Homo sapiens: one gene and its partners. The protein of the gene in region 1 purifies or fractionates together with the protein of each later gene. This does not show direct contact. Each region holds a gene or a part of one and is shown in the gene's direction. Other genes may lie near its edges. The genes, in order: DDX6, MCRIP1 and YBX1.

Evidence for each region.
Region 2: the proteins of DDX6 (region 1) and MCRIP1 purify together in Homo sapiens (affinity purification with mass spectrometry; 3 studies listed by BioGRID and IntAct, with this or other methods). This does not show direct contact.
Region 3: the proteins of DDX6 (region 1) and YBX1 purify together in Homo sapiens (co-immunoprecipitation; 4 studies listed by BioGRID and IntAct, with this or other methods). This does not show direct contact.

The regions. Positions count from the first base shown.
Region 1 is NC_000011.10:118,747,151-118,750,253, reverse strand, and holds the end of DDX6 (probable ATP-dependent RNA helicase DDX6), read left to right. Parts: 3' UTR 1-2,491; downstream 2,492-3,103.
Region 2 is NC_000017.11:81,823,292-81,826,943, reverse strand, and holds part of MCRIP1 (mapk-regulated corepressor-interacting protein 1), read left to right. Parts: intron 1-428; exon of another isoform or gene 429-549; coding exon of another isoform or gene 550-564; intron 565-2,389; coding exon of another isoform or gene 2,390-2,437; coding exon 2,438-2,445; intron 2,446-2,538; coding exon 2,539-2,657; intron 2,658-3,430; coding exon 3,431-3,532; intron 3,533-3,632; coding exon 3,633-3,652. UniProt on the Homo sapiens protein: The phosphorylation status of MCRIP1 functions as a molecular switch to regulate epithelial-mesenchymal transition. Unphosphorylated MCRIP1 binds to and inhibits the transcriptional corepressor CTBP(s).
Region 3 is NC_000001.11:42,685,397-42,689,048, forward strand, and holds part of YBX1 (Y-box-binding protein 1), read left to right. Parts: intron 1-3,652. UniProt on the Homo sapiens protein: DNA- and RNA-binding protein involved in various processes, such as translational repression, RNA stabilization, mRNA splicing, DNA repair and transcription regulation.

The DNA.
Region 1 (3,103 bases):
ATTCCCTTTTAACCCAGTGTACTAGGTCAATCAGGAGGCATCTGGAAAGGGGGGGAAAAAAGCAAAAAACAAAATTAAAAAAAATTGATTTCCATATTTTATTTTTCAAAACCCTAAAATATTACAAAATAAGTCCCGCATATACTTTAATGTTTTAACTCTTTTGGACAAAGGAATCAATTACTTGAAGTTGCTTTTTTGACTCTGCCTACTTCTGAGCAAACTATTTGCGACTCACCCACAATTCCTTGGAGATCAAAATCCTACAGATGCCTCCTGATGGGACATAGCCCTAACTCCTTAACAACTGTAGCAAGAACTGCACGGTACAAACCCAAAAAAGAACAAGCTCATCTATTTGGAACCCAAGCCTCATATTTTCTGTCCAGTCAATGTTGGTTACTAAATAGAAAACCTAATTAAGGAAGTAACTTTTTTCCAGGGAGGGGTGGGAGAGGGAATTTAAAAGGTGTCAACTTTTGACCAAAAAAATTGTGCCCTTGTACCGATGCAGCTCTCTTTCTCCCCCACCTCTTGCGAGATAAGAGGGATCATTCATGTAGAAGAAAAGAGTATAAATGCAATTCTGTATCTCGCTAGAGAACGTGTGGGTGACTAAACAAAAAGTGCAGTCTCCTTCACCAACTTTAGACTGCGTGGTGCCACATGCCTGTGGGTCCCTCTTAAAGCACAGACTTAAAATGGAAAGTATTACTGAAGTATAGCCTCTAATGAGGAGTGGCACTTAAACTATCTGGGACACCACTACTGGACACGGTCTTGTAGAGGCAGCTGTCCAGTTTTGGTGCTTGACTCTTGAATAGGAATTGTTAAATGGAAAGATGCTCTGAGGACTAGGTCAAAGCCTGGTCTTTTTTTTTTTTTTTTTTTTTTTCTTTCTTTTTTGGGCCCTCATAATAAGCATTGTTACTATTGGAAGTTGTTTTCACATTCTTTCCAATATTAAATATGTATTTTTTTAAGTAATGATAATATTTTCCAGTGGCTCATTTGGATGAGAACTACCCTCTATTTTTAATATTAAAACTACATCCAACTCATCATTTAGCCTTTGGTTGTACAGTTGTGTAATGGGCTATGGACTGTTACACACCTTACCACCTCTAGGCCTATGTTTTTTCTTTCCCCATATATTCTGATGGGGATAAATACTGTTTTGCCTCTCCCATAGGAATGGAATACATTTATTCTAAAATGATCTTTCACAGAAGTAAGAGAGAGGGAAACCTAAATATACCTCTAAATTGTTTGAAGTTGGTCCCAGCAGCATAAAATGGGTTGGCCCCAAAGGGTTGGAGGGTGGGCTTGGTTATCAGTATTTGTTTTCAGAATGAGATGGGAGCATCTTTCCTTTGCCACGTGCTTTGTGCTTGATAACATCATGCTTGGTTCAAACGACAACTCAGCACAAAGCCTTGAGTATAAATTGTTGGAATCAAAACATCTCATTCTGATGACGTGGTTTAATTTTTTAATTTTTTTTTTTAATAGGGGTGGGAGGGAGGGTACTTTGCCCCAGAAGGGAGGGTGTCTGCACTAAGGATTTAGAAACACTTTGGAAGCTCATAACCTCATCAGAAACTGCCTTTAGCCACACTCCTGACCTTCTAGATGAGTAACAAAAAAATGAAATAAGTTCTTGGAAATTAAGCCATTTATTTTAATTTGCTATTTTTTTCAATGTTCTAGGTATCTTTAAATTTGTTATTGTGGAATCATTTTCCTGCCAGATACCTTTATCAAAATTATTGGCCTCATGAGAGCTGAAGTAAGTCAGCTTTTTGGTGAACTTTAGTGGACTTCTGTGAGATTGTAGTTGTACTTTGTATCTCTAAATCTAAAGATAGTTTTTTAAAACTCCCAAAGAAAATCTGCTCTCCTTTCTGATCTAAAAACTCATCTTTGGGGTAAAGAGTTAAGTGTCCAAAGGTTGTCACAGTTCATGAGGTCAGAGGGAGCTAGCCTGGCACCTGGACTCTGCCCATCCACAGCTGACAGATTCCAACAGAAGTGTATTTAAATTCTCCAGTAGACAATGCTGGGTAAGGGAGGGGGTAGGGCTGGGTTATTAAGATACAGGCTGCTGTATTTTACATTGGTTGTGTGGGAAGGGGAGCCTGGAGAAAACAAAGTCACTATTCCCTTTTTTGAAACAGGAAAAAAAATTATTTTTTGTTCAGTAAAAATGGTAGAGAATTCCAATGTCCCTAGCCACAAGGGACCAGTTCCACTGAGAAGTGAACAGTGGGAACTCAAAATTTCAGAAACATTGGGGGAAGGGAAAATTGGCTTTCTCTTAATTGGCAGATGTTCCAGTGGGGGGGGGGGGGGCTCTGTTTTTGTTGGGATGTGTTATGTTGTATGTACGCATATATGGACCGGAGTCTGCTGAGTTTATAAGGTTCCAAAAATATGGTAAAATCTTGGTTTTTGTTAATTTATCTCAATAAAAGCCCACTGGAACTCCAAATGTGTGTGTGGTATGTCCTTAGTAGCAGCTGTGTGCATAGGAATCTGAGCATTTTGCTCAGGTAATTCATACTGTGAAACAGACATTTCTCAACCCATCATTCCTGTGAAGCCCAGTTGAATTCAGAGCCCCTTCATCTGTTGTAGATACTGTTCCACCATGCTGTCAGATTTCACAGCCTAAATGGAGAACCAAGATAATCGGTTGGGAAGAGGGGAGATGTGGTCCATAATATGTCCAAATACATCAGTAATTACCACCTCCTACAATTGTTCTCAAATGTAAAGCTGAACATACCCCCAAAACCAAGGCATACTACATCTTAACAGTATGAATGGAATTCATATGCTGAGAACTACAAACCACTGATGAAATAAAAGATTGGGAAATAAAAGTTGGGAAAAGCAGACACTTAAAGTTGAGCACATCACTCTCACTACCTCTCTACCCAAAGAAATGCTTAAGTATAACTAAGAAAATAGAGTCAGTCCCCTGTATCTGGGTTTTACGTCTGCACATTTAGTCAACTGCAGACCAAAAGTGTTAGGCCTACAATGGTTGGGTCTGTACTGAGTATGTACAGATTTTTCTTGTTCTCTGAACTACAGTATA
Region 2 (3,652 bases), on another chromosome or scaffold:
GTTTCACCATATTGGCCAGGCTGGTCTTGAACTCCTGACCTTGTGATCCACCCGCCTCGGCCTCCCAAAGTGCTGGGATTACAGGCGTGAGCCACCACGCCTGGCCTTTTTTTTTTTTTTTTTTTTGAGATGGAGTCTTGCTCTGTCGCCCAGGCTGGAGTGCGTTGGCGCGATCTTGGCTCACTGCACCTCCACCTCCCGGGTTCAAGCGATTCTCCTGTTTCAGCCTCCCGAGTAGCTGGGATTACGGGTGCCTGCCACCACGCCCAACTAATTTTGTATTTTTAGTAGAGACAGGGTTTCACCATGTTCGCCAGGCTGCTCTCAAACTCCTGACCTCAGCTGATCCACCCGCCTCTGCCTCCCAAAGTGTTGGGATTACAAGCGTGAGCCACCGTGCCTGGGCTTTTTTTTTTTTTTTGACACAGGGTCTTGCTCTGTTGCCTGGGCTGGAGTGCAGTGCCACGATCTTGGCTCCCTGCAGCCTTGACCTCCTGGGCTCAAGCAGTCCTCCCACCCCAGCCTCTGAGTAGCTGGGACTACAAGTGCATGCTGCCACACCAGGTGTGTTCATATGGGTGTGTGCCGCATGTGTGTGGGCAGGTGTGTACAGACAGGTGTGTGCGGGCGGTTGTATGCATGTGTGTGGCAGATGTATTCAGCTAAGGTGTGTGCAGGTAGGTATGTGTGGGCAGGTGTGTGTGTGTGTGTGTGTGTGCACACAAGGCAAAGGGAGCCCCGGAAGGGTAGTTGCTTGGGAGGATGTGGGGCAATCAGTGGGATCTGGGGCAGGAGTGACAACCGAACCCAGCAGGGGGATCCCAGGCCAAAGGTGTGGCTGCATAAAGGCCAAGTGGCCACTGGAGGCAGAGGATGCATGGGGAGAAGAGCCACGGGAGAGGGCAGGCTGGGAGGCAGGTACCCCTAAAGCAGCAGTCGGTCAGTGGTGAGAGCCAGCAGGGGGCGAGGCAGGGGGCTGGCCAGTCTACCTGTTACCTGAGCTCTGCCTTTCTCTGTAACGGGAGCTTCCCAGCAGGCAGCATGTCCCTGTGGGACCCTCAACCCAAACAGGCCTTTCCCTCCGTGCTCTGGTGTTCGTGGGCTGGAGTCCCTGGCAGGAGGACTGGGCAGAGAGACCCCAGAGTCCAAGAAAGGAGAGGTGACTTTGTGAGCAAACTGGGTGCTGCCGTGGGTGGGGAGCCCCTGGCCCTTTTTGGACCTCACTCCTGGCCTGGGATGGGGCACAGAGTTCCAGGGCTGGGAGCTGGTTTTCTGCTCTTTGCTGGTTTTGCCCTTGAGCCGTGGGATTCTTATCACGTGGTGTTTGAGGGCTGGACCATTGACATGAGGCGGAATGAGCCAGAGAGGACTCGAAGCCTCAGTGCTCCTGGCCCTCTGTGAGGGCTGCAGCCGTGTGCCCTGGAGTATCTGCAGCCTTGGGCCTCTGGGTGGGCAGGGGAGTTGCTTGTGCTCAAAGCCCCCTCCTGGGAATCCTGGGACTCCCCTCCCCCAGAACCTGGAGTTGCCCCCTCTGGAGCAGGGCAGGCTGGAGACCAGCCCTGTCAGCTTCCCCACCTTGGGGTTGTGTGTCCTCAGCTGGAGTGGGGACACTGTCCAGCCTGCCAGTGTGAGCGTCTGAGCCTCAAAATAGACTCCATTTTTCCAGAGCCGTGGATTCCCCTGGGCTGGGAGGCCATAAACGGGCGGCAGCCCAGGGTCTTGGTCACCAGGTCAGGCCCAGCAGCTTCCTCCAGGGCCACCCCCTCTGCCCACCAGGGGAGCTGGAGTTTGGTTCCATCTCCAGGGTACTGATGTGGCTCATGCTCTAGGGAACCAGGAAGCTGGACCTGGGTAGGTGCCGGGGAGCTGGGATCACCTTTAGGAAGCTCATCCCCGTTTTACAGAAAGGAAATCAAGGCTCAGCAGAAGCCGTGTGCCCAGCCCTGCACCAGGGAGAGCAGGGTCAGTTAGCTGAGGGGCTGCAGGCCCTCTGCTGCAGTGAGAGGCAGCTGGACATCAGAGATGCTGACGGCCCCACCAGCCCACGTGGGGAGGGGCTCTGGCCACAGTGCTCCCGGTGCTGGGGCTGAGGCCTCCACGTCTGAGCCTGAGACGTGGAGGATCAAGGCCGCTGAGCGGGCTTGATCGCTTCAAGTTGTGTGTGTGTCTGGCTCGTCTGGCCAGCTCTCTGCTACCTCGTAGGGTTGCCTGGAGCCCACTGGCTGCCTGTGGCTGGACCCCAGCCTGTGGGGGACACCCTGGTAGGCAGAGGGACCATGCACTTTGTTCACATCTGAAGGGAGGAGGCAGGTGTGCCCTGCGCCTCCCCCTCCTTCTGTGCTGGAGAGGGTGGCCCTGCGTCCCATGCCTGCGCTGGCTTCTGTTTCAGAGGCTGAGGGGATCTGGCGGTGGAGCGCTAGGATCAGACGCCCCCGCGATGACCAGGTGGGTCTCAGGCAGGTGGGCTGGTCTCCACCGGGGCGGGTTGTGGGCTCCCACCCTGCTGTGTGCCCTGTCTCATGCGCCAGGCTCCCCCAGCTCCCCCGTCTCCAGAGTCGTGTACAACGGCAAGAGGACCAGCAGCCCCCGCTCCCCACCCAGCAGCAGCGAGATCTTCACCCCAGCCCACGAGGAGAACGTCCGCTTCATTTACGAAGGTGGGTGCGCCTGCCACACACAGCTCCTGCCCTGTCCTTGACGGAGTCAGCTCTGCCCCCAGCCCAGGACCCACGCTCCGAGGAACCTCCTGCGGCCCCTGCCCCTGCCCCTCCAGGGCACAGATAGCCCCATCACTGTGTCCACAGCCTTCAGGGCCCAGGCGGGTAGGGGTGGCCGAGGGGACCTTGTGTAGAGAGGAGACCTGGTTCTGATCATGGGGGGAGCCCGGGAGGAGGGGCTGGGGGTGGGCCATGCCACAGATAGAGGCCGCACTGGGAGCCAGTCATCCATGCTAGCAGCACTGGAGGAGTTTGCTGGGGAAAGGGAGGGGCCTTTGAAGACAGACAGGCACGCATCCAGCCATGAACGGGCGTGTTGCAGAAGTGGCCGGGAGGTGGTTGTCTGGGATTAGGGGAGTGTGCCGTGTGCTGGGGCCGGGGAGGTGCGTGGATGAGGTGGGAAAGATAGAGGCCTAGCTGAGGAGGATGCGCTGCCTCCGAGGCGCAGGGAAGCCTGGGGTAGGGTCATAGGGGTCCCTCTGACCACAGTCCTGGTCATCTTGCGGGGAAGGGACAGGCCTGCCAGAGGAGCGGGGACGGGGTCTGCAGGTGAGTGAGGCTGGGGTGGGCAGAGGGCTGTGGGGGAGCATGGAGGACACTTCTGAGGGAGAAGAGGATCTGGGAGGGCAGGAGCTGAGGGCAGGCACTCTCGTGACGTGGATGCCACCCCCTGGGGCAGGGGGCCCTGAGCACACCACTCTCTGCCTCTGCAGCCTGGCAGGGTGTGGAGCGAGACCTGCGAGGCCAGGTGCCGGGTGGCGAGCGGGGCCTGGTGGAGGAGTATGTGGAGAAGGTCCCTAACCCCAGCCTGAAGAGTGAGTGGGGGCTGACCTGGGGGCAGGGCTGGGCCGGCAGGCCGGGCCTCATGGGCAGGAGGGGCCTGTGCCCACCACCTACCGCGTTGTCCCCTGGCAGCCTTCAAGCCCATCGACCTG
Region 3 (3,652 bases), on another chromosome or scaffold:
TTATGCTTCTGAACTGGTTTTAATGATTCTGGGACTTTTTTAATAAGATGCTGTAAAATCTGACTCCAATTAAATACAGGGAAGATTTGCTTTAATTAAGGAAAATGTATGTGATAAAAGAAATCACTTTGGAAGCTAGCAGTTGGTTCTATATGTAGTTCGTGTAGTGGAACAAATAGACTTGGCTGGAGGCACCTGTCTCTTATGAGGGAGGGAGACAGACTGACACATAACGTGCTGTTTTCTGTATAAAGGAGAGGGTGCAGTGTTCGGGATGACTATTGTGACGACTTTTAATTGGGGTTTTTGGATGCGCTGGATTATATATGCTAGGATTGTAAGGAATTTTTATAATTACAATATTGTATGTAAATTTTCTGCCTTTAAAGACATAATTTCATTGTAAATGTGTTTATTCCAGCCTGAATTACCACCTGATGAATTGTTACAACCTTGTTAGAATTAATTCATGAAAGGGCTTCTCCCTGATGGTTATATTGTGAAGAAGGTGCTAAGTAACATGAGCATAGAGCTTTTAAAAATAGCAGAAGTTTTGGCTTTATTTTGTTAGACTGTGTAATCTAGAAATTCTAAGAAATTCATTGAGTTATTCTTTTGTGAACTGTGTCTACAAAACATAATCGGAGAATGTGACTAGAGGGGTTTATTAGCTCCCCCCAGATTACTGTTGAATTTTGTTAGTGGTTGAGTATTGATCCATATTCACCAAAGATTACCATGAATTGGCAACAGTTTATAGTGACCAGAATAGGAATATTTTTCTGTTTCCAGAGTACTTAAAATGTTTAAATTAATAATTCTTAATGTTTTGAGGTGAAAGAATTTGGAGCAGAGGTCACAAATTTGTGACCTTCTGGCTAAAACTACTCCCAGATGCTTTGATTAGACAGTACAGTATTTTTTAAAGGAATTGGGATTAATTACTAACATTTATAATTCAGGAGATAACACCAAGTAATCCAGATTATTATATTTTTAAGATCTGAACTTTAGCTGGCTTTGGGGGCCTGTATTTCCACATAAGTAAAAACCACCTGGCCATATTGTCACCACATTTAGGTGGGGTATACTTTTTTTACGACAGCCTTCACGCCTGGCCTCTGTGTATGCATTTGAGTTTATTACCCATGGTCTAGGAAGATGTAATAAACCAAGCCAGGGAAAGGTTTGGCTATCTCTCTTTAGTCACGCCTATCAGGTTTAGTCTCCCTTTGGGGTGGGGGCTCCCTTGTGGGGATTCCATATGTACATAACTGATAGGTGACTTCCAACACATGTTGGTGAAAATAGATACAGCTAACAAGTATTTATACTAGGGTCTATAGTAAGTGCTTAAAATGAGCCAATTTACTTAATCTTTAAAAACCTTTGAGGCGTAGGTACTGTCATTCTGAGGCACAAAGGAGTTGTTACTTGTCCCCATAAGCATAGGTGATAAGTGGCAGGATTGGAACTGTTTTTTGACTCTGGAGTTAGTGTTCACCAACTGCTCTTATGCTGTCTCTGAAATAGACCCTAGCCATTTTCAATTTGGTTGTTGTCCACATAGTTACAGATAATTTCTTAGGGTGATTATTTTTAGCCGTTGAAAGACTCTTAAATGATCCAAGTATGTCACTGGGGCTCTTGTCTGCTGACTTGCTAGGTCCTGGATTTGAAAAGTTTTCTGCCTTTCACTATCTACTTTGTGAAGTTTGGGATTGTTAAAAGTTCTAGTTTAGCATGTAGGTCAGCTATACAAATAAAAGGACTTGCTTAATTCCTGATACTGGGAGGTGAAGAATTAAAGGAGAGAATGTTGCACCTTATCTCCCTTAATCTTTTTTTTTTGTATGGCCTGCAAGGTAAGACTGAATATTGCCTTTTTAAAGGGTGATTTTTCTTGAGATGGAGTTTCACTCTTGTCACCCAGGCTGGAGTGCAATGGCACGATCTTGGCTCACTGCAACTCCGCCTCCCAGGTTCAAGCGATTCTCCTGCCTCAGCCTCCCGAGTAGCTGGGATTACAGGCGCCCGCCACCACACAGGCTAATTTTGTATTTTTAGTGGAAACAGGGTTTCTCCATGTTGGCCAGGCTGGTCTCAAGCTCCTGACCTCAGGTGATCCACCCGCCTAGGCCTCCCAAAGTGCTGGGATTACAGGTGTGAGCCACTGCGCCCGGCCTCTAAAGGGTGATTTTTTTTTCTTTTTTAAAGGTGGCGGTGTAAAGTACTTACTGTGTGGTTGTTGGTTGTTTGAAGTGGAGTCTCTCTGTGTTGCCCATATGGGTCTTGCACTCCTGGGCTCAAGTGATCTTCCAGCTTCAGCCTCCCAAATGTGTGGTTCTTAATAGAAGTGTAAACCTTTGGAAGGATGTCATTACCAAAAATCTCTTGGGCTGTTAAAGTCACACTGATCTTAACTTGATCACAGTAGATCCATTGCTAAGCCACATAAGTCATGGGTAGACCGTAACATAACTGACAAAATGTTTTGGCACTAGGGAAGGTTTAAAGACTTTTCTGCAGGTGCTGCTAAGGGAGAGATGTCGAAGGTTCCAAACTGGAACCCTAAAGACAAACATCAATGACATGTATGCAGGAGACATTAGGAGAGATTTGTATGCTGGTTATATTAACCATTGATCTTAAGCTGGCAAGAAGTCATCCGTGTTCACCAAGTCACTGATACGTGACTTGGAGAATACTAGTAGGTCCCACTCCCTGTGTCCTCCCAAAGTACAATCCTTTACTCTTGAAATCTAGGATAGAGAACTAGTATCCAGTTTGACTCGTGAACAATGTGAGTTTGAACCACACAAGTCCACTTACACACAGATTTTTTTTGATAAATATATTGGAAAAATGTTTGGAGATTTGCAACAACCTGAAAACTTCAGATGAACCACATAGCCAAGAAGTATCCCCCAAAATAAGGAAAAGTTGAGTATGTTGTAGATACTAGTCTGTTTTATTATTTACTACCATAAAATGTACACAAATGCATTAGAAAGTTAATACAGCCATTTGCAGTTGAGAAATGTAAACAAACATAAAGATTCAGGCAGCATTAAATCATAACTGCACGACATTCACTGTAGTAATATTGTACTATTATAATATGTAGCCACTGCCTATTGCTACTGCAGTGAGCCCCTTAAAATGCCATGTGACGCTAATCATCTTCACATGAACAGTTTATCTCTCCAGTAAATTGCATGTCAGTAAAAAGAACTTGTAGTACACAGGTATTGTGGTTTAGTGCAATACTGTAAGTCTTCAATAGCACCATGGGACCCATGCAAAGTGGCGCTAGTGATGCTGAGAAAAGTCATGGCATTGTAAGAAAAAGTTCAGTTGCTCGATATGTGCTATAGATGAGGTCTACAGCTGGAATTACCTTTCAGACAGATGTACACTTACCGTATCGATAAGTGCAGTACTGTACATGTATTTTCTCTTACAACTTTCTTAGCATTTTCTTTTCTGTAGCTTTATTGCAAGAATACAGTATATAATACATATAAGACAGAAAATGTGTTAAGGATTTATGTTACCAGTAAGGCTTTCCAGTCACGAGTAAGCCATTAAATTTTGGAAGAGTCAAAAGTTACAGGCAGATTTCAACTGTGCAGCAGGTTGGCACCTCAAA